Linked DNA regions of Homo sapiens: region 2 is linked to region 1. The links come from fine-mapping of genetic effects on gene expression. Tissue or cell type: whole blood. Region 1 holds a variant in brackets; the other region holds the start of a gene. All regions are shown on one strand. Distances are from middle to middle.

Region 1 (2,764 bases):
ATCCCTGGCATCTATAATAGTATGGATAATCAATAAATATTTCTGAAATATTCAATGAATGAATGGGTGAATAAACCTTGAATGCTTCAACCACTTCACATTTTTAATTAAACTATTTATTTTGAGGTAATTATCGATTCACATACAGTTGTAAGAAATTATAGAGAAATTCCCTTATACCTTTTACTCAGAGTCCTCAATGATATTATCTTACAAAACTGTAGCACAATATCACAACTGAGATACTTGGCCTTGAAATCTTGAAGTGCAGTGTCGGCTAGGTATATTAGAATCAAAATGTCTCTTTTACCTCTAGCAAATTCTGAGCAGCGTTTTTCAGGTTTGCACACCTGGAGCTACAAGGCCAGGACCCAGGTCTGTATGCTGAACTGGCTGACCACCATGCTCTTTGCATGCCCAGGGTCGAATATTGAGAGGTAGCATTGATTTCTTCTAATACATTTGAAGGCTTTCAAAGGACTTAATAGGAAAGATCTTTTTAATGTGACTGATATTTTAAAATATGTGTTCTCTTTTTTTTTCAGGGCTTCCCGTAGTAGTCAGATATATTGGCCTGAAGTGAAAGAAAGGGATTTAGTTTCAATGTTCTGCATATGGCAGATCAGTTATCTCAGCACCATTTATTGACTCCCAGCACAATAGGGAGTATTTTCCCCATTGTTTGCTATTGTCAACTTTGTCAAAGATCAGGTGGTTGTAGGTATTTGGCTTTATTTCTGGGTTCTCTATTCTGTTCCATTGGTACATGTGTCTCTTTTTGTATTAGTACCATGCTGTTTTTGTCATTTTGGTTATTGTAGCTTCATAGTACAGTTTAAAGTTGGGTAGTGTGATGCCTTTAGGTTTGTTCTTCTTGCTTAGATTGCTTTGGCTATTTGGGCTCTTTTTTGATTTCATATGAATTTTAGAATAGATTTTTCTAGTTCTGTGAAAAAATAATATTGGAAGTTTGATAGGAATAGCATTGTATCTGTCAGTTGCTTTGGGCAGTATGGCCATTTAAACAATATTGATTCTTCCTATCTATGAGCATGGAATGTTTTTCTATTTTTTTGTGTGTCATCTGATTTCTTTGAGCAGTGTTTTGCAATTCTCATTGTAGAGATCTTTCACCTCCTTGGTAAGCTGTAGTCCTAGGTATTTTATCCTTTGTGGCTGTTTTTTGTAGGATTGTGTACTTGATTTGGCTCTGACCTTGGATGTTATTG[G/C]AATATAGAAATGTAATAATTTTTGTACATTGATTTATATCTTGAAACTTTACTGAAGTCATTTATGAGTTCTAGAAGCCTTCTGGCAGAGTCTTCAGGATTTTCTAGGTAAAGAAGCCTATTGTTCATGAAGAAAGATAGTTTGACTTCCTCTTTTCCTATCTGGATGCTTTTTTCTTTCCTTCTCTTGCCAGGTTGCTCAGGCTAGGCCTTCCAGTATTACATTGAATAACAGTGGTGAGATTAGGCATTTTTTTTTGTTCCAGTTCTCAGGGGGACTGCTTCCAGCTTTTGCCTGTTCAGTATGATGTTAGCTGCAGGTTTGTCATATATGCCTCTTATTATTTTGAGGTATGTTCTTTCAATGCTTAATTTGTTGAGTGTTTTTAACATGAAGAGATGTTGAATTTTATCAGAGGCCTCTCCTGCATCCATTGAGATGATCATGTGATTATTAATAAAATTTTGTTTATGTAGTGAAACTCATTTATTTATTTGTTTACATTAAACTAATTATTTATTTGTGTTAAACCAATCTTGCATTGGAATAAAGCATACTTGATCATGATGAATTAACTTTTTGATGTCTGTTGAATTTAGTTTGCTAGTATTTTGTTGAGGATTTTTGTGTCTGTGTTCATCAGGGATATTGCCCTGAAGTTTTCTTTTTTTTGTTTTGTCTCTGCCAGTCTTTGGTATCAGAATGATTCTGGCTTCATAGAATGAGTTAGGGAGAAGTCCTCCTCCTCTTTTCTTTTTTTTCTTTTTTCTTTTTTTTTTTAAGAATAACTTCAGTAGGATTGGTACTAGCTCTTTTACATCTTGTAGAATTTGACTGTGAATCCATCTGATACAGGCCCTTTATTGGTTGGTAGGGTTTTTATTACAGATTCACATTTGAAACTTGCTATTATTTTGTGCAGGACTTTAATTTCTTCCTGGTTCAATTTTGGGAAGCCATGTGTTTCCAAAAATATGTCCATTTCTTCTGGGTTTTCTAGTTTGTGTGCATAGAGGCATTCATAATAGTCTCTAAAGACTTTTTGTATTTCTTTGGGGTCAGTTGTAATGTCACCTTCATTGTTCCTGTTTGGGTTTATTTGGGTTTTCCCTTTTTTTCTTTATTAATCTAGCTAGCAGTCTATCAGTCTTGTTTAATCATTTGAAGAACCAACTTTAGGTTCTGTTGATCTTTTATGAGGATTTTCATGTATCAATTTCATTCAGTTCAGCTCTGATTTTGATTCTTTCTTTTCTTCTGCTAGCTTTGGGGTTGGTTTGCTTTTGTTTTTCTAATTCCACTAGGTGCGCCATTAGGTTGTTAATTTGAGATCTTTCTAACTTCTTGATATAGGTGTTTGGTGCTATAAACTTTTCTCTTAAGACTGCTTTAGCTGTGTCCAAAAGATTCTGGTATGTTGTGTCTGTTTTCATTAGTTTCAAAGAATTTTTTTTTTGTTTTTGCCTTAATTTAATTATTTACTCAAAAGTCATTCAGGAGCATGTTGTTTAACTTCCATGTTATTGTACAGTTT
Region 2 (2,630 bases), 360 kb before region 1:
AGCACAAAATTATGAATCAAAGAATGGTCCCCAATTACCACGAGCCAGCTGTGTGACCTTGGGCGACTCCGTTAAGTTCTTTTAGCCAAGAGTGATGAATGGTCTGCAAAACGACCTTAATACCTGTTCTGAATACCCCCACATGGCTGTGGTACAGCAGGCGTGAGATGTTTAAAGTACTCCTAAGTAATTTATAAACTGCAAAACGCTTCCCAGCACAAGCGTCCGCTACAGAGCGCGACGACACCGAGCCGGTTTAGAAGTCCAGTTACTGGAATCCACTCCAGTTCCGTCCTGCTCCCACCTCCTACGCTCAGGGTGGGCGAGCGGAAGGAGACTCTCAAGGGAGAAGGCCTGGAAAACTGGCTAAGAAACGAAGCGAGAAGTTCCTCAGCAGGGGTAAAGTTGTTGGCGGCATTTTTAAGCCCCTAGAGTGGCACAGCGACTCCCGGTCGAGATGACGGACCCCGGTGCGTGACCAGCGCGGGAGCCAGTCCCGGGCCACCTCCCTGCTTGAAGTCGGGCCTGGCCAGTACCCTCCCGGCGCAACCCCGGACCCGGGACCCCCGACTTTGCCCTAGTCCCCAACCCCCACAATCACCTCCCTTGGTCCCCCTCCACGTGACAAGAGCCGGAACCGTCACTTCCGGCGGCGCGGGCAGCGCGCCTGCGCGGGTCGCCCGGCCTCAGTGAGCGGTTGGCAGCAGCGCCCCCCCCCCCCCCCCGCCAACGGCCACGAGTGGCGGGCGGCGCGGGTTCGGCCGGGGCGGCGGCGGCGCGACGGGCTGCGGTCCTGCGGGTTTGTGGCCTGAGACGTCTAGCCCACTCCCTGGAGGGGCCGGCCGCCCAGCCTCTTTCGCTCTCTTCCTCTACCCCGGCTCGCGCTCCAGGCGCTTAGTGAGGCGGCGGGACGCCCGGGGCACTGGCGGAGGCGGCGGCGTCGCCCCTGGATTCGGACCCGCCCCCTCGCGCCCCGCCCCGTCCCCGCCCTCCCCACCGCCCTCTGCGGGAGCCGGGCAGCTGCAGCGGAGCCGCGGAGCGGGCGGCGGGGCCCAGGCTGTGCGCTTGGGGAGCGCGGAATGTGAGGCTTGGCGGGCCGCAGCACGCTCGGACGGGCCAGGGGCGGCGACCCCTCGCGGACGCCCGGCTGCGCGCCGGGCCGGGGACTTGCCCTTGCACGCTCCCTGCGCCCTCCAGCTCGCCGGCGGGACCATGAAGAAGTTCTCTCGGATGCCCAAGTCGGAGGGCGGCAGCGGCGGCGGAGCGGCGGGTGGCGGGGCTGGCGGGGCCGGGGCCGGGGCCGGCTGCGGCTCCGGCGGCTCGTCCGTGGGGGTCCGGGTGTTCGCGGTCGGCCGCCACCAGGTCACCCTGGAAGAGTCGCTGGCCGAAGGTACGGGCGCCCGGGGAGGCTCGGACAGGCAGGTGAGGGAGGGTTGGGGTGTGGCGGCGGCTTCTCCGGGTCCTCGCCCTCCGGACTGACTCTTATACCCCATTCTTCCTCTGCTGCCGGGCCAGCGGGGGCTCCTAAAGAGTGGCTCGGGCTTTCTCTCTTAAGCTGGCTTTTCTTGCCGCTGGCTGCCCCGGCCGGTGCACAGTTCTCTCATGCCTAGTTTAAATCATTTTCTGTGCTTTTTGACGCGAGAAAATAGGTAGTAGACGGGCTAGGAAGTGGGTTGGTGTTACGATTGGGCCAGTGACTCATTAGAGGGTCAGATCGAACAGGGTTGAAGCTCCGTTCTGCCAGCTGTGGCTCAGACGGGTGTCATGCGTTGGCCTTTTCATCTAAGCCTCCACCCGCGCTGCAGGGCATAGGACCCTGCAGCCCCTGGTGTCAAGCTGGGCTTTGCTGCAGCTCAGTCATCTGTTGAAAAACAATGTATTTGTGTGCATGTGTGCGTGTTGGAGGTGATCCTTTGCTCTAAATTCAGTTAGTAGGTTGCACTGAGGAGCAGGTAAACTTGGAGCCCATTTATCTTTGTTATTTAGAATCTTCTCTGTTGGACAAGGTGCTATTCATGCCCTCCCAGTATGTCTCTTTGATAGTAGTTTAAAAGGTGATATAAAAGCAGGTTAACTTTCACTTAACGAGGTTTTGTGGTCGGTCCTTCATGATCTGGAACAGGTTATGACGGCAGGTAGAAGTCTACTTACAAAAAAAGTTTACTCCATTTTAAAAGAAGAACTTAGAATTTAGTTTTGTATTTCTGGCATAATTGCCTTGTAGAAAATACTTGCCCTGTGTGCTGCATGCTTCATTGGCCTTTGAGTTTTTAGTTGCAAAATGATACTACAAAATAAACACTTTAAAAGAAATACTTTTTGTTGATAAATGGCCCTTTTAAGTTCTATGGTTAAGATAAAAAAAATCGAAGAGTGGATTCAGTTCTCCGAGCGTTAGACGTTGATGTGGTTTGAAAACAGTAGACTGAGATTCCGCTTGTATTTTTTGAAATGCTATACACAACAGTAAATTAGCACAAGGGAAAAAACCTGAAGATTTTTGTATAAAATATTTGAAAGAGAAAGAAATCGTGAATTATTCAAGTGTACATATCATTGTTTCGTGAACCATTGCTCAGAATAATGATCTTAGCCGAAACTTGGAGAGGTGGGAGAAGGAGGATCCTTAG

The links. PIP is the estimated chance that this variant, and not a neighbour inherited with it, causes the effect.
Region 2: BMP2K starts here. The variant in region 1 is fine-mapped to the expression of BMP2K in whole blood (TOPMed, PIP 0.98).

The regions. Positions count from the first base shown.
Region 1 is chr4:79,133,585-79,136,348 of GRCh38, forward strand. All of the region lies in intron 3 of LINC01088 (long intergenic non-protein coding RNA 1088), which reads left to right. Among named protein-coding and RNA genes, the nearest start is that of LINC01088, 160 kb to the left of the region's middle. The variant G/C (reference allele first, on the strand shown) is at 1,230.
Region 2 is chr4:78,775,332-78,777,961 of GRCh38, forward strand. BMP2K (BMP2 inducible kinase) reads left to right here and starts at 1,019. Exons shown (of 16, transcript NM_198892.2): 1 at 1,019-1,390. The coding sequence starts at 1,213. BMP2K-DT (BMP2K divergent transcript) reads right to left here and starts at 639. Exons shown (of 1, transcript NR_186689.1): 1 at 1-639. RefSeq lists enhancers at 255-885, 1,518-2,148 and silencers at 352-601, 692-1,361, 1,723-1,923.